Linked DNA regions of Homo sapiens: all the other regions are reported to be linked to region 2. The links are microRNA targets in miRTarBase. Many come from high-throughput screens and were not tested one by one. Region 2 holds a microRNA gene; each other region holds the end of a gene's coding sequence.
What was found. Region 2 holds the annotated microRNA hsa-miR-30c-2-3p (CUGGGAGAAGGCUGUUUACUCU, at 5,163-5,184, opposite strand). A microRNA usually pairs through its seed, bases 2 to 8, with sites in the 3' UTR of a target mRNA and lowers its output. Matches are read on the target gene's strand: a 7mer-m8 pairs with bases 2 to 8, a 7mer-A1 pairs with bases 2 to 7 and ends in A, and an 8mer does both.

Region 1: miRTarBase lists AJAP1 as a target of hsa-miR-30c-2-3p. The part of its 3' UTR that is shown has no 7-base or 8-base seed match.
Region 3: the mRNA of SLC16A4 is a reported target of hsa-miR-30c-2-3p. Seed matches in the 3' UTR shown: 7mer-A1 at 1,255-1,261.

What each region holds. Positions count from the first base shown.
Region 1 is chr1:4,773,925-4,780,924 of GRCh38, reverse strand. AJAP1 (adherens junctions associated protein 1) reads right to left here. Exons shown (of 6, transcript NM_018836.4): 5 at 6,367-6,498. The coding sequence ends at 6,426. Among named protein-coding and RNA genes, the nearest start is that of AJAP1, 120 kb to the right of the region's middle.
Region 2 is chr6:71,371,802-71,380,003 of GRCh38, forward strand. It overlaps MIR30C2 (microRNA 30c-2), which reads right to left and starts at 5,230; the gene lies at 5,159-5,230.
Region 3 is chr1:110,357,778-110,364,777 of GRCh38, reverse strand. SLC16A4 (solute carrier family 16 member 4) reads left to right here. Exons shown (of 9, transcript NM_004696.3): 9 at 885-1,921. The coding sequence ends at 1,012. Among named protein-coding and RNA genes, the nearest start is that of RBM15, 22 kb to the right of the region's middle.

The DNA.
Region 1 (7,000 bases), not on the chromosome of region 2:
GCTACAGTGGAGTGTCCGCTCAGCTACTGTGGGAAGACCAGCTGCTGTGGGCACAGGGTTCACTGCATGTAAAGAAAGGAGACATCCTGGCCAACATGGTGAAACCCCATCTCTAGTGAAAATACAAAAATTAGGCATGGGGGCGCACACCTGTAATCCCAGCTACCTGGGAGGTTGAGGCATGAGAATTACTTGAACCCGGGAGGCAGAGGTTGCAGTGAGCCGAGATGGCACCACTACACTCCAGCCTGGGCAACAGAGTGAGGCTGTGTCCCACAAAAAAAAAAAAAAGAAAGAAAGAAAGAAAAGAAAAAAGAAAAAAAAAAGAAAGGGGACGTGCCTTTGGGTTAGCGCCAGATCACTCTTGGTAGCCTTACTCCAGCTGTGCCCCACCCCTGCCCACCTCTTCCACATTCCCCGGATTTGGGGAAGAGGGGCTTAAAAAATGAAGTAATTATTACAACACAGAGAGAAATATCCCTCTTATATGTCCATCTTGGTAATTTTTTTGAAAGTTAAAAAATGTAGAGACGAATGCTGTATGATTCTACTTACAGGAAGTACCAGAGCTACCAAATCCACAGAGACGAAGAGTAGAATTGGGGGCCAGGGGATGGGGGGAGACGGGGAGTGAGTGTTGAGTGGGTGCGGAGTTTTAATACGGGGTGACGGAAGGAGGTGAAGAGCTGGCTTGTGAAGATGCCTGCACAGGACGGTAAAGGCACTCATGCCATTGAACTAGACACGCATAAATGGTTACATGGTAATTTTTTTTTTTTTTTTTTTTTTTTTTGAGACTGTCACCCAGGCTGGAGTGCAGTGGCACAATCTCAGCTCACTGCAACCTCCGCCTCCTGGGTTCAAGCGATTCTCCTGCCTCAGCCTCCCTGGTGGCTGGGATTATAGGCGCACACCACACACCCGTCTAATTTTTGTATTTTTAGTAGAGATGGGGTTTCGCCATGTTGGTCAGACTGGTCTCAAACTCCTGACTTCAGGTGATCCGCCGGCCTCAGCCTCCCAAAGTGCTGGGATTACAGGTGTGAGCCACCGTGCCTGGCCTAAAACGGTAAATTTTATGTTACATATATTTACTACAATTACAATTTTTCTTAAAAGGGAGATAAAAATCCTCGGGCCACCAGAAGCTAGGCTTCGAGACCCTACACTGGGTCCCGGTGTCCTGGGACTGTCACCGGTTGTAAGCTGCTGTCCCTGTGTTCCCTGATCATTGATTACTCACAAGGCCAACCTTTTGCTCTGGAATGTGTTCAGGGTTGGACCGTAAGTCATATGGCTGCCACCTTAATAAGAATAGTTTCCTGCCTGAACTGTGGCCCCGGCTGCTTTCCAATCCTTAATCCTGACCTTAAACAGGAGAATAAAGGCCGGAGGAGCAGCTTCCAACCATTGCGTCTGTCTGGCTGTGCTCCGGAGGTGTTCCCATGTAGACTTTATCCTGCCACTTTCCCATGTGAAAGTCTCCCGTGTGAAGGTGGAGGCGGAGCTTACAGCGAGCTGAGATCGAGCCACTGCACTCCAGCCTGGGCGACAGAGCGAGACTCTGTCTCAAAAAAAAAAAAAGAAAAAGAAAAAGAAAAAAAGCCTCCTGCACTTCCCATGCTGGCTCATCAGATCCTTCTGCACTGGGTCCTGGCCACCTTTCCACCTCACTCTTCCTCTTCTTCTTCCTCTCTACGTTCCAGCTTCCCTGATTTCAAGTTGCAAATCTCAAGCCTCAAATCCTTCAGGTTTTGGCTGGAAAGAACACCTCCCTGGGGAGGGCCTCTTGGATGCCCCATTCCTTCCTACACACATCCCCTATTTTACTTCTGTCTCCTGCAGCACTTGCTCGGTGACATCTTCGGTATGGGACCATCTGCATCGAGCTTTATCTGGGCAGATGTGCAAGGCATCCCCTGCTGGCAGCACAGCCTCCTGAGAACGGGGGTCTCCTGCCCATTCACCACTGGTTCATGCAGGTTCCAGTTCTGTGCCTGGCCCGGAGTAGGGAATCAAAACACCGGATGAGGCTCAGAGACGCGGCAGAGGTGTGAAGCAGTTTTGTCCTCAGTCGCTAAGACCCGTCCCTAATGGCATGAAACAACCTCTGGGGACTGCCTGCAGGTAGATGCTGATGCAGGGAGCCACAGACACGACGTGGAGGATCAACGAGTGGGTGGCAGCCTATGCCAGACATCCCCGGCTATGCAGGGAAGGGAGTCTCTTCCAAGACTACAGGCATCTCTCTCTACTCTGTGTCTCAGGATGGAAAAGAGAGAGAGAGGGAGAGGGGGAGAGACAGAGAGAAGAGAGAGAGAGAGAGAGAGAGAGAGAGAGAGAGAGAGAGAGATGGCGCCAATCCTGCACCTTGAATGACCATTTCCAGAGCCATGCTGGCTTTGTAGAGGGTGGAGAGGTTTCCTGCAAGACCAAGGTGTGGTCACAGCCCCTGGCCCAGGAGGAGGCTCTCATGTTGTCCATGCTCTGCCAAAACTCTGTTGCTCAAACTTCAGCTGCTTGTGTTTTTCTGCGCCACACTTAGCACGTGAGCCTCTCATCTTGGCACTAAGCCCAGAGAAGGACTGAGGATCCCAGGCCAGCTGGGAAAGACAGATAAGGTGGGGCCTGGACCCCATGGCTGGAAAATAACGTGGCTGAAGGTGAATGTCCACCTGAGATTCCCTGGGCAAAAAGGGAAGCTGTATGTATCTTGCAAAGCCATCTTCCAGATCGGGATCTGGGATAAATTCTGCCCTCTGCTGCCTGGAAGGAGATTCTCGGCTGGCCTGGCCCCACTGGGCTGCATGCTACGCAGTGGCGCACTGGGTGTAATGACCACTGTCTGCTTTTGCAAAAAATAAATAAATACATACATACATACATAAAATAAATACATAAATAAAGAGCAAACAGGCTACCGCCAGGTGTCCCCGGGGCAGAGCAGAATTTCTTGACAATCTGAAGTGGCTACTTTCTCTCAAAGTTTTCGTGGTACTGTTCTCAGCTCAGCAAGCACAGCTTCCAGAAAGGTATGGATGTTGCTTTGAAAAACAGGCTCCTTTGAATAACAAAAGTTTGATATTCTATTAATGTATATTTTGGAAGAACAAAGTGGGAAGGCACAGGTACACTTCTTATTTTTTATTAGTGATCAATGTGTTTTTGAAAATAATAATAGTGCATGATTTATTTCTCACTTGCTTCGGATTCAAGAGCTTTTATGACTTTGCAGGCTCCGTTCAGAACGAAGCGGCCTTGGCAAAGGGAAAGAGATCAACATTAACGAGGTTTGCTGAAGTGTACCTGCTGTATGAAAGATGATCGCGAATTAGTCCGAGAGCCAATGCAGGCCTGCTCTCGAGGCCCCCTTCCTTGGAGCATAAAGGCCAGCTTCACTTTGCCCAGAGCAGTCTGGCCCCACCACAAAGGTGGTCTGAGGCCAGAACGTGTTGGAATCTATCACAAAGGCTGAATCTGGGGTGCACATCTGCCCAGGAGCCACTGGCATTCCGGACAACCGCCTGCAAGAAAACGAACTTGGCTGACTTTGGGTCCCAAATGTGCACACGGATTAGACTGAGAAGAAAGACAATGGTGTGGTAACAAACGGCTGCATCGTCATTAAAAATGCATTTGGAGAGGCTTCCCAGCTATGTGAGAGAGAAAGAGCTCCACTGGCTCTTAAACCTTAATTAAATGTTTTAGTATTAATTGCTATTTATTTAGGGACAATAAGTACCCCAGCAAATCTGAGAGATGTTTCTGGCTATTCTGCACCCGACGCTCATGTCCAGGCATTAATTGCAAGATTCAGGGGATACTTAGAATCCCAACGCTTTCATCCTAGTGAGTGGTAAACGGTCTGTCCCGCAATCGGCAACAGAATCTTATAAGCATTTATCAAGGACTAACGAGGCTGTGTGCATAGCCCTCCTGGTCCACAGCTACTTCAGGAGGCCACCAGGAGTGGGCCGTGGCTTCGTGTCGGCAGATTCCCAGGCTGAGCGCAGCTGCCTTCAGTAAGCCTCACGGGCTCTTCTGAACTCTGCGGACGACCTACCTGAGAGCCACAGGGAGGGGGTCAGCTCTTTAGACACAGAGATGTTTCCTTGTGTAAATGCCGGTGGTCCTGAAACAGCTCCTCAGGCACAGTTGGGAAGTGGGGTCCACCTGGGGCCCATCTGGGGGCGCCCATGTCTCTTGCCTTTGCCTGGGGCTGCAGCACAGGGCTAGCCCACCAACAGTATTTCTGGGGGGTCTTCAGTGCCCCATGCTGCTGGAAGGGGAGGACCAGGCTGATGAGACACGAAGGTTTTCTGGGGCAGATGAGTAAATAAAACACTTTTTTTTGCCCTATTTTATCTTTTTATTTTTTTTAAAGTCAGTGCTGCGGGCTCCTGTTCTAATGGAAAAGAAGGATCCCTGGGCTCAGGCCTGTGGAGTAGGCAGGGGATGTCCCGGAGCCAGGCAGCCATCGGGTGATCCAGCCCCACCACTAACAACCTGGCTGACCTCGGCCAAGTCATTTAACCTCCCACTGCCTCAGTTTCCCCACTTGTAAAAGGAATTGCTGGGAGGACTGGGCAGGTAAAAAGTGTTCCATGAGCTGCCGTGCAAACATTAGAAAGCTGTCCCCTCTCCCCTAGGGAGCTGACCTCGGCCAAGTCATTTAACCTCCCACTGCCTCGGTTTCCCCACTTGTAAATGAGATTGCTGGGAGGACTGGGCAAGTAAAAAGTGTTCCACGAGCTGCCGTGCAAACATCCGTATTACGGGGCTGTCCCCCCGAGTTGACCTCTCCAGTTCTGTGGGTCTGTGGCTCTTGGCGGAAGGGAGTGAGGGTCTTCGACTCTAAGGCCTTGCATCTCCCAGGTCAATGAATTGTGCATTAACAAATTTTAAAAATCATAACAGAGATGCTGGCAACCATCAGGACCCAGTCCCTACAGAGGCTTTACCAGGCGGGTCGCGGACTACACTGCTAGCAAGCCAGCTCCCTGCGGCTAGCTTGGTTGGCACTCCAGTAGGGGCTCCCTTCATGAGGGGAGCTGCGGTGAGGCAGACAAAGGCACTGGCTTCTGATGGATGCTCTAGGCTGCACATCCCCCCACTGAATGGTGGGGGCAACCCGCCTCTTACCTGCTGCAGCAAAGGCCCTTGCAGGGCAGCTCGGTTCCCATATTCTAATCTAATTACGTTTCTTTGCCAGTTGGCAGAACATGTTGGCTTCGGGGTAGGGAGTGAGGGCTGGAGATTTGATTTGGAGCAAACATGCAGTTCATTAGTGCCAGGATGAGGAACTGACCGATTCACTCCCCTCTCTGACTGCAGCTGGTTCCCCGCCCCCAGCAAGGTGCAGCCAGCTGAGTCCTCCAGACCTTCCCTGTCCGCGGGCCCCTGAGGACTTTGTCCATTCTGTCCCTCATATCAGATGGTGGGCAAAAAGTAAGAAAAAAATATTTTCAAATATTGGTATTCTATCCTAGAAATACGGCTCCCTACTCATGGAAGGGATCTTAGGTCACCTTTGGAAGGAAGCAAGATGAGGATGCGTAGAAAGCCCAGCGTCGAAAAGAACCATGAAAACAACACGAAAACCTCAGGTCACACCCATGGGCTGTGCTTATAGAATGCATGGGATGTGCAGCCATGAGGGCGCAATGCTCTCTCCCCTCAGCAGCCCGAGTGCTCTGAAGACTCAGCACAGAAGGAGGCAATTTAACGTTAGCATTAAAGTTAATATCACTAAAAGCAAACCAAATGTTCCCATCCAGCAGAGCGTGGAAAATTCATCCTGTTTTGGTGCCGGTTCCTGGCTTCAAATTAGTAGATGTCTCAACTCTTCCCTTTCTTTCTTTATCATTTTCTTTCTTATCTCTTATTTTTATATTTCAAAATTGTATTTTAATTCTGCCTTGCGCCCTCCCCCGATGTAAAGACATGTGATGGAGGTGCGATTCCTGCCTCCCTAGCCGCTGTCCTAATCTCCTCCTGTTGTGGGAAATGAGAGCTGTAATTGTCGCTTGTTTTAGGGAATGACTTTCCCTGCCACGTAGGCCACGCATGTGGTGGCCTTCCTGAGGGAAGGAGTGGCACTGATAAGAATAGTGAGGACGTGGAATCAGGGTGCATGAATGTCTGTTACTATCCTCCCCTGGGACGGGGAGGGCACTTCTAACAAATCCAACATCAAGGTCAAAAGCCCAGCCCCCCCCGCCGGCTCATGTTCAGAGAAGTGATGCCATTGGAAATCCACCCGCCATGTCTAAAAGAGCTCCCAGTGATCCCAAAGAGTGCAGGGGAGGGCAGTGGGGAGGGGAGGAAAGGGAACGAAAACAGGAATGTCCAAAGAGAGGTACCTACCGTGAAACAGACACACGGCGTCTGCCCTGCCCCCAGGAGGTAAAAAAGACTTCGGCCAGTCAGCAGGAGATTTCAAACCATTTCTCAGACACGAAGGCCACAGGAATAAGATGCCGATCAGAAGAGGAGGGTCTGCGGTGAACAGAAAAATGGGCTTTGGCGTGCTGGTACTTGACCATGACACATGATAGGCAAGCCGGGGCAGGCCTGTGGTGGGGACTGGCTTCTTGAGAAAGGAAGCACTAATGTGGACTCCTGGCCTTGCCAGGAAGGGACCACCCCCCACATTCCCTGTGGCTGGGAGAAGTCCTCACACACGAATGCTTTCTACCCTGGGAGGCTTTGGAAGACACAGACTGAGGGATCTGGGCACACGAGCACTTTGCTGCACAGGCCGGAAGGCTGTGCCGTCTCCACATTTTCGTTTTTGAATTTGCAGGATTAGCCCAGAGCCTGGGGTCTCTGCCTCTGATGGCAGATTTGACCCACTTTATTGCACATGACAGAAAGGATAGAACCTGGCTCCCAAAATGTCTCGCCCATATTTTGTCACCTTTGAGACTAAGCTACCATTTCCCAAGGCCAATGAAACCCAACAGAGCATGACCTTGGGCCAAAAGGCAAGAACTAGTTC
Region 2 (8,202 bases):
TATGTTAATTGATCATCTACATATCCTCTCTGGTGAATTATCTGTTCAAATCTTTGCTCATTTTTCTACTGGGTTGCTTGTGTTTTCTAATTAATTTATAGGAATTCTTTATATATACTGGATATAAGTTGTTTGTTATATGTGTTGCTAATACCTCCTCTGGTATATTTTGCCTTTTCATTTTCTTAATGTTGTCTTTTGATGAACAGAAGTTCTTGGTATTATAATCCAAATTACCAGTTTTTTCTCTTTCTGGTTGGTGTTGTGTTGGGAGTTTTTTAAGGGAATTTTGCCCACTCCAAGGTCATAAGGATATTCTATATATTACTTCCTAGAAGCCTTGTTTTACCTTTCGTATTAGGATCCATAGACCATCCTGTCTCCAGTGTACTTCAGTATCATCTTTATCATAATAGTGTGTCTATTCTATTTATCATTTATCTGTTGTGTATCTGTCTGCCATTGTGCCAATATCACACTCTCATCATTACTATGGCTTTGTAACAGATCTTGATATGTGGAAGCATAATTTCTCCATCTTTTTTTCAAGATTATCTTGTCTAGCTTTTGCTGTTTGAATTCTAAATTTTAGAATCAGTTTATTAATTTCCAAACATACACCTGCTTACATTTTGATTGGGACTGTACTGAATCTACAGATCAACTTGGGGAGAATTAGCCACTTAACAATACTGAGTCCTGTTCTCTATGAACATGGTTTATCTCTCCATTTATTCAGGTCTTCTATAATTTATCTCAATAATATTTAGTTTCCAGTGCGGAGGTCTTATGCATCGTCTGTTAGATTTCCCCTTGGGCATTTGATAGTTTTTAATGTTATTATAAGAAGTATCTTTTAAAAATTTTCATTTTTATTTGTTTGTTGCTGATATATAGATATACAACTGATTTTTATATATTAACCATATAGTTTTCCAATGATAAAGTTAACCAAAATAACACCTAAAACCCAATTTTGTAATTAATAACCTGCTTTCTGCTATTTTAAAATGATGACAGCAGGCCGGGAGCAGTGGCTCATGGCTGTAATCCCAGCAGTTTGGGAGGCCAAGGCAGGTGGATCATCTGAGGTCAGGAGTTTGAGACCAGCCTGGCCAACATGGTGAAACCCCGTCTCTACTAAAAATACCAAAATTAGCCGGGCATGGTGGCGGGCGCCTGTAGTCCCAGCTATTTGGGAGGCTGAGGCGGAAGAATTGCTTGAAGCCGGGAGGGGGAGGTTGCAGTGAGGTGAGATCACGCCATCGCACTCCAGCCTGGGCGACAAGAGCGTGACTCTGTCTCAAAAAAAAAAAAAAAAAGAGAGAGAGAGCAGAATTATATTTACATTTATAGAAATCTAAGCCAGAGTAGTTTATAGAAATATATCACCACTAGGTATTATAAAGAATTACTAATTCGAACAAATAGAGACAAGGAGACTATAAATTCATAAATGAATAAAGTACATATGATACCTTTATTTCTACTGAGTTTTTAATGACACAATTAGGCTTACAAAGCTTGTCAATTAAAGCTTATGTCTTTTTTCAAATATAAATGGATGTTTACATTTAAAAGTAATCTGTTCTTTTAAAGTCTTTATGGCGTTTGCTTAGCAACCAATATATAAACATAACATAAAGATAAATCATCCTTACCAGTATTTAGAGAGTTACAAACTTGAATAGAGTTAGGTTCAAATTAATATGTTTACTTGTATCAGATACAATGATAATTTGAATATATATAACATATGCAACATATATAAACACACAAACATGTAACTTTTTATATTATATAACTCCTTAGCAATATCATCTCAGCAAATACGAAGAATTTCAAAAAGTTCATGGAAAATACATATTATGGAAAAACTATACATGGATTTCAATTTTTTCTTATATCAAAATAAACTTGTACTAATTTGTAACATGTCTGAACAGGATCTATTTTGAGGCACAAAAAAGGATAAGAAATCAGTTTGAAAAGAGCCCTTATCAGAGCAATGTCAATTCTGCTAAAATTAAAGCAAGAACATCAAATTTATGGGGAAGTTTGGGTGGGAAAATCAGGAAATCATTGCTGCTTTACAAAATGTTAGTGGGGGCAATGCCCCAAAGAAATTGGCAGTTTACAAATGAATAATTTATTTTAAGAAAAGATGAGATGATGTTGAAGATGAAGCCCACTATAGAAGACAAACTACATCAATTTGCAAGGAAAAAAAAAATCTTGTTTGTGCCCTAATTGAAGAGTACTGATGATTAACAGTACAAACCATAGCCAACGCCACAGACATTCCAACTGGTTCAGCTTACACAATTCTGACTGCAAAATTAAAGTTGAGCAAACTTTCCACTCTATAGGTGCCAAAATCATTGCACTCAGATGAGCTGCAGACAAGAGCAGAGCTTTCAGTGGAAATTTTACACAAGTGAGATCAAGGTCTTAAAGCTTTTCTTTGAAGGATTGTGATAGGAGATGAAACACAGCTTTACTGGTATGATCCTGAAGACAAAGCACAATCAAAGTAATGGCTACCAAGAAGGGGATGTGGTGCAGTCAAAGAAAAGCCAAGCAGTCAAGAGCTAAGGTCATGGCAACAGTTTTTTGGGATGCTTAAGTCTTTTTGCTTGTTAACTTTCTGAAAGGCCAAAGAATGATAACATCTACTTATTATGAGAGTGTTTGGGGAAAGCTAGCCAAAGGTTTAGCAGAAAAATGTCCAGGAAAGCTATACCAGACTCCCTCTCCACCATGACAATGCTTCTGCTCATTCTTCTCATCAAACAAGGGCAATTTTGCCAGAGTTTCAGTGGAATGTCACTAGGCATCCACCTTACTGTCCTGATTTGGCTCATTTGGACTTTTGTTTCCTAATCTTAAAAAAATCTGTCAGAGCACTCATTTTTCTTCAGTTAATAATGTTAAAAAGATGGCACTGATGTGGTGAAATTCCCAAGACCCTGTTCTTTAGGGATGGAATAAATGTCTGGTATCATTGCTTACAAAAGTGTCTTGACCCTGATGGAGCTTACTCTGAGAAATAAAATTTATATTTTTTATTTGTAGCTTTTAACTCAATGTTTCCATGAATATTTTGAAGCCCCCTCATATATATATTTATATATATAAATACATATATAAATATATATAAACATATATAAATATATATAAATATATATAAATATATGTAAATATATAAATATATGTAAATATATATAAATATATATATAAATATATATAAATATATATAAATATATATATAAATATATATAAATATATATAAAAATATATATAAATATATATATAAATATATATAAATATATATAAATATATAAATATATAAATATATATATATAACTTCTCAAGCATGCTTAATAATCCTACTTACTCATGTCACAAAACAGGCTAGTTAACAACTAGAACATATCTAGAAGAATAATACTAAACAAAAACCAAAATTATATAGCTTTATATCAAAGTTTTCCATAGTCAATGAAAGAAATATTCTGGAATATTTAAATACACTTGGTTTTGGAGGACAAGGCAATAAAAAGATTGAATAAAATTAGATATTTTACATAGATACACAAGATGTTTATATTTTGACACATTATATATTTTCTTGTAAGTTCCATGAGAAAAAGGACTTTGTTTCTGTTCTCTGCTATATCCCCTGTGCCTAGAAGTTCACATAGTAGATGCTCAATAAATAATTCTTGAATGATGAATGAATTTCAGCATGTATTTCAATAAGCTTTGAAACACCTACATTCATGACTAAAAGTTAACCATAAATTTAGATCTGGAATATTTGAATGTCCCCCCTTTTAATTTAGGCAGAATAATAAAATGCTATGGCAAAGCATATGCATCATTCTCTGCTGCTTAGAGTTGCTTTTCCCCTTACCCATATTATCTGCCTCTCCTAGCAGAAAGCAAAATTTCAAACATCTATAACAATTATTTCTTTGAGAAGACTGTAGAGCATTGTTTCAAAGAGGGTTTTCTTAAGCCTGTAGGCAAACCTAAAAAGGTAAATGACTCAATCAAGCTGGCACTTCAACAGTGTCTACCACTGCTTCAAGGCCAGCCTGTTCAAATACTTCCCTGAAATCACATGCTAAAGTCATTGTATTTAAACTTTTTTTCTATAAACTCATATGAAACAATTACTCCTATTGTATTAGGCTCTACAGTCAGTGCGGAGGTAAAATTAAAAGCTCCTCTAATACTTCTAAAGTAGTAGAGTGTCTTTTAGTTTAAATGACTGATATATGCTGATATGCCAAGACTAGAGTAATTTTGTTCAGATTTGTTTAATTTTTAATAGAAGCATTAAGTTAATTATTTAACTTCTTAAGGGCTTGTTATATAAAAATATGCCTTATTTAAATATTCTCTTTAACAAGAAGGCTTATTTCATAATAATTTTAAATAAATCAGCAATGGACTCAAATTTCAGGTAAGTTACATTCTAGATTAGATGTTTAATAGACCTTTGATTTAAACGATTTACATGAAAGAGTTTTTCTGGTTAAGGCTGAACTTATGAGTTCGTTCTGTAGATTTTTCTTAAAATTAACTTCTTGCATCCCATCCCTTACCTCTACATTTTCCTTCCTCTCCCGTCCTCCAACAACAATTCTATTTTTTCCTGAAATGTGTAACTATATTCTAGCTTTAAAGAGCAGACCTTATTGTTTGCCATTACAATTCCTAAAGCATGGGGCTCCAAGGTGCCTTTGATCCCTGATAAAATAGCAAGTCCAAGGACACTAGAATTTTTGCTTCAAGAAAAGCAGACTTCAGTGTGGAATGCTCTCAGGTTAAAGGAGAAATGTTTAGCTTAACGTATAGGTAATGTGTTGCTTTTACAGATCAGACTGCAGCAACCCACAAAATGTAGCCTCATACAAGTTAACCAGAACTTTTGTCACTTGGGTATTTGGTAATCTTTTTTTTCTTTTTAAACTAAGTGAAACAGTTCAAATATAACTGATATTATAGATTATCTTACATTTCTTTGGATGACTTAGTCAATTCACCTTTTTTCCTTTTACAGTTGACCTCAGAAACAAACACGGGATAGGATCAATTCTAAGACATAGAAATATTCAAAATCCATTTCTCTTTAGTTGACTTCCAAGGCAGAAAGAGTAAACAGCCTTCTCCCAGCTTTCTTACTTTCCACAGCTGAGAGTGTAGGATGTTTACAGTATCTGTCGCTCAGTGCTCTCTAGGATGGGGTTGGCAGTCAGCAGCACAAGCCTCAGGAAACCCAGTACCATTTGAAGATACCATAATATGTCACAGGAAAAGATCAGAAAAGTATACTTGGGACTAAATTATGGCTCTTTTAGGAGTAGGGTTGGAAGGGTGGGTGGGGAGGCTATATGACACTTACTTAGTGCTGCCTGCTCAGTTCTTGTTTTCTTCCTGTTTTGCACATCCTAAGATATTCCTAAGGTCTCTAGCTTTGAGCTTGCACACTCACGGATTTGGTTAATTTTGGATTTTCAATATTCTATGCTTTCCCAAAAGGGTTTCAAAATATTCGCCAAACTCCTTCCTTAAACAGTACATAATCCCTTTCTGACTGTTGGGAGACATGAAATGCAGCTTCTCACTCTCTGGGCTATACAACTTTGTTTCAGCTCACTCCTGCACAGAACTGAGAATAATGGCTAAACAGAAGACCAACAGTTTAATTACTGAAAATTAGTTACCTTAATGATGGGATACACAGTAATAAATTTAATCAAATGAGCAAAAAGTAAATATGTTAGAATACAACTTTACATGCATAAAAATGGTATATTGCAAATTGCTAATATAATGCTAAAATTATTTTAAAAATTCATATTCGGACAGAAGTGAACCTACAATTAGAGGCATACACATGAATGGAGTCAGTTGCTTCCTAAAGTTATTTTCTAAGAATGACTTATTCAAATAGTTCTTGGACTTCATTTGCTAAACTGGTCTAAGGTACACAAAATACTTGGGCGAAGAAGAAAGTCATCATTACTATACATCTCAGAACAAACCTACCTGATAAGAGACTACACTGTAAACCCAGGTGGCATATAATTCCAAACTGTTACAGGATCTTACTCATTTCATTCATTCATTCATTCATTCAACAAACAATTGTGACTGCCTGCCATATATCAGCAATGTTTTAAATTCTAGGTGATGAGAAATGAAGGGTATCATCCCTACCTTCGAGAAGGACACAGCTTAATTTGCAAGACAGACACATACACCATTACTATAAGTGTTATGATGGGTCAAAAGACACTTCTGAGTTGGCTAATAGCCAGGCTGAGTCTTGAAGCCTGAATAAAATTAGCTAGGTGAAGATGGTGCTAATGGGAATTTGGAAGGGGTGGGCAGTGAAGAAGATAGTGTAGCTTAAAGTGTACCAGAAAGAACAGTCATCCAATAGAGAAAGAAAGACAAAGGTAATGTATGCTGAGGCCTTTAAGAATTCAGCAGAGGTGGAGTCAAAGATGCATGTGGGTGAAGGGTAAGGGGAGAGACACAAGGGAAAGATGGGAGTCCTTATGTGCCAGGTTAAAGGGTTTGGGCATTATCTCCAAACGATGGGTACGAGTGAAAGATAGTAAGCAGGCAAGTGGGATGACCATGTCAGTACTTTAGAGAATTTACTCTAGCTTTAAGGTGGCAGGTAAGGAAAACAGGAAAAGAATCACTGCAGTAGTGTAAGGGAGAGCATGGGAGCCTTAATTAGGGAAGAGGCAGTAAGAACACAGAGAAAATGAATATGAGAAATTATAAAGACAAGAAGAACAGCAGAATTCAGTGAGTGAGTAGCTGAGGGGAGAGGCACTGTGGAGATGGAGAAGTCATGGGTAATTCACAAGCCTGGCTTGGGCTTCATAAGGCCTTTCATGCAGGAGGGAAAGAATAGGAAGAGAAGTGGAGAAGGAAAGAGCCCTAAGAATGATAACTTGAATGGGCTGGGCTGCAAAGTTATGACCCCATGCTCATTGAATACTGAATTCTGTCACAACTGAAAGGGTGAAAACACTTGAAGAACTAAATCACACAAACCTGTTCTTTATTCTGTTTCTGCACTTCTGCTTACTCTTCTACCTGGCAAGTGCCCATACAGTCTTCAAATCCCAAATCAAGTATTCTCTCTTGTGAATCCTCTCTGGTCAGCGTCATCCCTAACACCCACACCCCTCCCCCAACCTGAGGAGGAATTGTTCATTTTTCCTTTTACCACCATTATACTGTGCCTAGGTCACATAATTGCATATGCCTAGATCACAGAACTGATACTTTATTACAATTATTTGTTTACCTATCCATCTCTCTACTAGGGAAGAAACACCATGTTTCGTTTAACTTAACTTCATTTCATCAGAAGAAATTCACAACATGTATCCAGGGTTTGTCTGGTACTAAAGGAGGTTCTCAGTGAAGGTTTGATGAATGAATGAATGAATGAATGAATGATGCCATCTACCACCTGACAATGGGTTAACAATGTTAAGATGATTATTCAGGTTTTAAAAATCTCTAAATAAAAAATATTTACCAGTTTCTAAAACTTTGTTTTTATTCCCCCAAAATTCAAGGTTAGGCTGTTTTACTTTTCTAAGGAACTCATAGCTAAGAAGAGAAAGCAATCTCTCCTTAAATGATGGCATTAACTCCTGGAAAGTTAACCTTTTATGAAGGCAGCCTTATTTTAAAATTTTATTTTCATGATGGATTTCAAGTGAAGAAAAACCAGGATACACAGTAAATGCAGAGAAGAAATCTATGTAAACAGTTTAAAAATAGACAAGAATGAAAGAAAATGGTCATAAAATGTGGGTATCAATACTGAATAATTATGTAAGAGCTTAAAATGTTCTACATGGAAAGAACCACACCTTATTAAATAGTCACTAAAATAATTTTAGCTACATGAAATGATTTTAACTTCTTAAAGTCAAGTCTGAAAAGTTCCTTTTGTAACGTGAAAGCCACTCTCTTTTGCTTCAGTAGGGCTTCTGATGTAATAGGCATTTTAGTCACATAAAACTAATCTCCAATAAACTAGCCTTTGGTCATTTTTAGTTCTGAATGAAAATACATTTATTTCAAATGTAGATTATATTTGATCAAATCTGTCACATTCTGTATCAAAAAACCTTATCCATTGATTTAAAAATA
Region 3 (7,000 bases), not on the chromosome of region 2:
GCACTTTGGGAGGCCGAGGTAGGCGGATCACTGGAGGTCAGGAGTTCAAGACCACCCTGGCCAACATGGCGAAACTCCGTCTCTACTAAAAACACAAAAATTAGCCGGGTGTGGTGGCGGGCACCTGTAATCCCAGCTACTTGGGAGGCTGAGGCAGGAGAACTGCTTGAACCCAGGAGGTGGAGGTTGCAGTAAGCAAAGCAGAGATCGTGCCACTACACCACTCCAACCTGGGTGACAGAGCAAGCCTCTGTCTCAAAAAAAAAAAAAAAAAAAAAGCATTTAGATTTCAGGGGGGAACTTGTCATTGTTTAACCCACGTGATCAAGCAGTCAGTTCCTTCTCATATCTTCTGATAGCCTCCTGCACCTTCCCTTCATAGCACTTATCACATATCATTTATGTGGTTGGTACCTATCTCCCCACTAAAGTTCTGTGAGGGCAAGGACCGTATCTGTTTTGGCTCACTAGTGTATCCTCAACACCTAGCAATATTAACAGGAATATAGTAAGTACTCAAGTCTTTGTTTAGTAAAGGAAAAAAAAGAAAACTGATTATTATCACTTCTTTTTTTCTCTGGAAAACAATAATTTATGATTATTTTCTTCATAATAGCGGCCTTCTAATAAAATTCATGGTAAAATAAAACGGTATGTGTTCCTAATTTTCTCCAACTTCCACTGTAAGATTGGAGATGGTGTAAGTCCCTAACTCAGGTGGAGCTGATTCAACTTCATCAGTGAAAAATAGGGCAGCTAAGAAGCTTCACTAAGTTCAAATGGGTCACAATACAGGAGGCTCCTTGCTTTGAGGAGCTATTCATGGCTGAGAGTTACTAATGGCAAAATTTCCTTCCCTAACAGAAATCATTCCTTCCTTCCAGGCTGGTTATATGATTATACCCAGACATACAATGGCTCTTTCTACTTCTCTGGCATATGCTATCTCCTCTCTTCAGTTTCCTTTTTTTTTGTACCATTGGCCGAAAGATGGAAAAACAGTCTGACCTGAAAGAAAGAAGACTGCAATCAAGTGAGAGCTAAACAAAAGAAAACCTAAACTAATGTCATTGGAAACAAAAGCTTGAAAGAAACACATCGCATCTACATTTGTAACATGAGAAGGAAAACAATTTTTTTTTTTTTTTTTTTGAGACGGAGTCTCGCTCTTTCGCCCAGGCTGGAGTGCAGTGGCGCAATCTCGGCTCACTGTAATCTCCGCCTCCTGGGTTCAAGGGATTCTCCTGCCTCAGCCTCCCAAGTAGCTGGGACTACAGGCACACGCCACCACACCCAGCTAATTTTTTGTATTTTTAGTAGAGGCGGGGTTTCACCATGTTAGCCAGGATGGTCTCCATCTCCTGACCTCGTGATCCGCCCGCCTTGTCCTCCAAAGTGCTGGGATTACAGGCATGAGCCACTGGGCGCGGCCAGATAAGTTTTTAAGGTTCCTTCTTGCTTTAGCATTCTGAGAAATGTCTAATTGGTAGTAAGACAAGAGTAATAGCAACCTGTATTGTTAGTATTTAACCAAATAGGCTAAAATTTTAATCAGGTACCTTATGTATTAAATAGAAATCGGAATGTACCATAATAAATCCAAACTCTCAATTACGCCATGGTAATTCAGTCACTAAAATATGTAAAGATAGAAAATTTTTTAATTTAAAGAAGTGTGAAACATAGCCATTGATTGATCAGAATTCTGGAATCTGAATATTAAAACCTTACTTAGTGACTGGAATGGTATATGCTCCCTCCAAAAGTTTATCTTTGTTTATTGATTAAAGGTAATCCTTACTTTCTTTGTATTACTTAGGTTCTTAATTAAAGGTAATCCTTACTTTCTTTGTATTACTTAGGTTCTTAAATTTCTATGATAAACATGTATTGCTAAATAATAAAAAGTATATAAAAATTGCTTTAAAAACTTCTTTATTTCAAGATCATCTGAACAGCAATTTTGCCCATCAAAGCGTTATTTTTCTGCTACATCTAATTAACAAAATATTCACACTAAATATTGAAACGTCTCTTTACAAGATTTACATGAAAGTTGAATAGGTGGTTTTAATGGGAAATATGTTTAAATTAAAAGATGTTTCTTATACCACCAACCTCCCTTAGCATCTCCTTCTGAATGCTTTTTTTTTTTTTTTTTTGAGACAGGGTCTCACTCTGTCGCCCAGGCTGGAGTGCAGTGGTATGATCTCAGCTCACTGCAAACTCCGCCTCCAGAGTTCAAGCTATTCTCCTGCCTCAGCCTCCCAAGCAGCTGGGATCACCGGCATCGGCCACCATGCCCAGCCAATTTTTGTTATTTTTAATAGAGACAGGGTTTTACCATCTTGGCCAGACTGGTCTCAAACTCCTGACCTCAAGTGATCCACCCGCCTCGGCCTCCCAAAATGGTGGGATTACAGGCGTGAGCCTCCATGCCTGGTCCAAAATGCTTCTTAAACTATTACCATCATCGTTATTCCACTCTTCCATTCCTCTCTGCTTTAAAATGTCTATTAACAACTTACAGAGAAAAACTCTAGAAGACTGGTTTTAGCTCCATACCCTGTCACTGCCTATGTATGCCTTCTCTACCAGGCACCATTTCACTTTTCACTATCTGACTCACTCAAAGGCTACCTCCTTTGGAAAAATCTTCCCCAGCATTGTCATTCTCATCTGGAATCCTATCTAACTTTTAACAGAGTACTACATGAACTCACATGTCAATCCTTTCCATTAGTCTGCAAGATCAACAAGATGAATGGGGTTTCATTCATCTTTGTATTCTCCAAGGCCTAGCATAAGCTTTGGAACCAAATTAATCTCGGTTCAAATCTCAGTTATGTTAAAAAACAGTAGTTGATCCTATTTAAATATGGTTTTTATGGCTTTCTGACTAAAGCAAAAGAAAAAAGAAAACTGGTTTTCTGACTTAAAAAAAAAGAAATATCATTTTTACATTTAGATGTGGATGTCTAATATTTTTACATTTTACATGTAAAAAAAATGAAAAAAAAAACCACCCCTTACACATACAAACAGCAAAAATAGTTAACTAATAATAAATATCAGCTCTGCCACTTGTTACCATATGCCCTCATGAAAGTTACTTAAAATTAACTTATCTGAGACCCAATTTCCTGCTCTGTAAAATGAAAATACCACCAACCCACCTCACAGATATACTGTGAGGACTAAACCCATGAAAATATACTTGTGCCGGGCATGGTTGCTCACACCTTCAATCCTAGCACTTTGAGAGCTGAGGCGGGTGGATCACTTGAGGTCAGGAGTTCAAGACCAGCCTAGCCAACATGGTGAAACTCTGTCTCTACTAAAAATACAAAAATTAGCTGGGCACAGTGGCGCACGCCTGTAGTCCCAGCTACTTAGGAGGCTGAGGCAGGAGAATCGCTTGAACCCGGGAGGTGGAGGTGGCAGTGAGATCATGCCACTGCACTCCAGCCTGGGCAACAGAGCAAGACTCCGTCTCAAAAAAAAAAAAAAAAAAAAAAAAGAAAAAGAAAATATACTTATACCAGGCAAAATGCCCTTCATATATAGTAGCTGCTAATGTCCATTCTGCTTTCATGTCAAAACAAAAAATAAAAGAAATCAATGATTTTATGAACCACTTTCATTAATTCCTTCTTCTCTTTAGAGTAGCAATTATTTTTAAAAGGGACTTCAACTACCTAGAGCAACCTGATCCTTCCTCCTAGCTAAGCAAGCTGTACATTTTAAGTGGGACCAACTAAAGAACTCCAAATTGAATTCTTAGGTTTTATGAATCTCATGCAACAGAGAAGTTCTTTATCCTACTCAATAGTAATAGGCCCTCTAAACCTGGGTGGTGTGAATTAAGAAAGCCTGAATCCCAAGACTACAGAAAGCTAACGACTTCTATAACTAACGCGTTCATCATATTAACAATTAACTTATGATGTTCCTGTTCATTTACTGCTATGTTGTCATTTTTGTGGACAATAAGATGCCATATAAAACATTTCTAGGAATCCATAATGCAGGAATATCATCCCAGCTATATATGGAGTTTCAAGAAAAGCATAATAGTTGCTGATTTTTTCTTCCCCCTCAAGAGATTCCATAAAACAAAGAGGAAACAAATATTACACAACTTACATATGAGTAAGTGCGCTTGGGGCAGTAGGGTGGTGAATAACTTCACTTCAACATCTAATAATACACCAGTTACTGAGGTAGACACATACCTTTTTTAAAAAAATAATTTTCTTTCAAAAAATTTTTATTTGAGACCAGGTCTCGCTCTGTTACCCAGGCTGGTGTGCAGTGGCACAATCACAGATCACTGCAGCCTCTACTTCCTGGGCTCCAGTGATCCTCCCACCTCAGCCTCCCAAGTAGCTGGGACCTCAGATGTGCACCATGCCTGGCAAAGTTTTGTATTTTTGGTAGAGACGGGGTTTTGCCATGTTGCCCAGGCTGGTCTAGAACTCCTAGGCTCAAGTGAATCTCCCGTGTCAGCCTCCCAAAGTGCTGGGAATACAGGTGTGAGCCACCGCACCCAGCTGACAAATATCCTATTTAGTCTTCATGATAACCTTCAGAAGCAGATAGAGATACCATACTATGATGCCCATTCTACAAATGAAGAAACTGAAGGTCAAATAAATTATTATTTTTTAAAATAATTCAGTTTTATTTGAGATGGAGTTTCACTCTTGTCACCCAGGCTAGAGTGCAATGACATGATCTGGGCTCACTGCAACCTCCACCTCCCGGGTTCAAGCAATTTTCATGCCTCAGCCTCCCAAGTAGCTGGGATTACAGACGCCCGCCACCAGGCCCAGCTAATTGTTGTACTTTTAGTAGAGATGTGGTTTTGCCATGTTGGCCAGGCTGGTCTTGAACTCCTGACCTCAGGTGATTTGCCCACCTGGGCCTCTCCAAATGCTGGGATTACAGGCATGAGCCACCGTGCCCAGCCTGAAGGTCAAAGAAATTAAATACCCAGTGAGTAGTGGAGTAATAATTCAAACACAATCTAACACAAAACCCTACTCTTTCTCCTTTACATTACTCTGGCTTCTTGGCAGTATCAACAGATTATGAAGCTGATTTAATTGAAAGCAGTTATAATAAAAATCTAACTCAAATTGGCCTAAAATTTTAATGTCTGTATTGAAACAAAAAGGAGAATGTGGGCCAGGTGGCTCACACCTGTAATCCTGGCACTTTGGGAGGCTGCGGTGGGAGGATCACTTGAGTGATCAGGAGTTCAAGACCAGCCTGGGCAACACAGTGAGCCCCATCTCTACAAAAAATTGTTTAAAATTAGCTGGACAGGGTGGCACACGCCTGTAGTCAAGCTACTCGGGGGGCTGAGGCAGGAAGATCACTTGAGCCCAGGTGGTGGAGGCTGCCGTGAGCTATGATCGTGCCACTGCACTCCAGCCTGGACGACAGAGCAAGACTCCATCTCAAAAAAAAAAAAAAAAAAAAAAAAAAAAAGAATGCAAATATGCAAAGTACCTAAGAACCACCCCCCATCCTCCACCTCCGTCAAAATTAAAACCACAAAATACATCTGCTACAATGCAATAATAATGTAGTTGTTAAGATAATTAACTTTCTTAGGTCTCCCAATACTCAGTGAACCTGATTAAAGAGAAAATAATGCCTACGTACAGGGCCACTTATAATTCCTTAATACGTTATTATTAATAGTTGGAGTGTTTACAAATTATAAGCCTTAAAATACACACACATATCTAGTAGAGCTATTGTAATTTGAACATAAAAGTTCAGTATACTTCAGTATACTTTCTTCTCTGCTACTTCTTGGGTTATGTTTAAAACTGTTAGGATATTTCCATCATTATAAAAGAAGGAATTTTCCATATATGTCATTGTAAAATACTATATCTGACACTAAAACTCTACCTTATGGTACTGTTAACTATTTGGAGTTCTTTCCCATCTATTACCTCATTATCATCACGTTAATTCTGTGACAAAGTATGGATAAGTATTATTATTATTTCTATTTTATATATAAGGAACAAAGGCAATTAAGAACAAGTTATTTGCTTAAAGCTAGCCCTTAACAAAGCCAATTTTAAAACCTAATTACTGGTGCTGATTAATTAGCTCATGGCCCCTGGCTTTTCTTCTTTAATGATTCTCTAGGAGTTTAACTTTATTAAAAGCAATTATACTTATATGGACTGAAATGATACTTTTGTGATTTTTTTCAAATAATTGAGGTATGTGTTATGTCCTGTTTGCAAAATATGTTTAGTAAATACATTTGTCTAACTGTAAAATCAGCTTTTTCCATGTGAGGAAAAAAATCATATACTATTATTTTAATTGTTTTTAAGAGAGACATAGTGCAAAACTTGGACGGTGGTTTCTCTGAAGACCTCATATAAAACCAAAGCCCAATACTTTTTATTGAGACAGGGTTTCACTCATGTTGCCTGGGCTCTAGCGCAGTGGCGCAATATCAGCTCAGTGCAACCTGTCTCCCAGGCTCGAGCAATTCTCCTGCCCCATACTCCCTCAGCCTCCAGAGTAGCTGGGACTACAGGTGCACACCACCACACCTGGCTAATTTTTGTATTTTTAGTAGAGACGGAGTTTCGCCACATCGCCCAGGCTGGTCTTTAACTCGAGTTCAAGTGATCCTCGATTCAGGTTCCCAAAGTGCTGGGATTACAGGCATGAGCCACCACACCTGGCCCAAAGCCCAATACTTTTTAAAAGCCTTGAGTGTTTCTCTTAAGCCAGAATCACCTTGTATGAGGCTTTATATCTATATATTTGCCTCATGTGGCTACTCATTTGCCACAAATATCTACTCAATTGTTTCACATTTGTCATCTATGGTCTTAACATATACACAAACAAAAAATAACTAAAGTGCTTGAAAGCAACTTTTAAAATCCATTTAAAATTCTTCATGTTTTATTTCTGTGAGAATTAGACTAGCATGACTTAGGATCAGAGACAA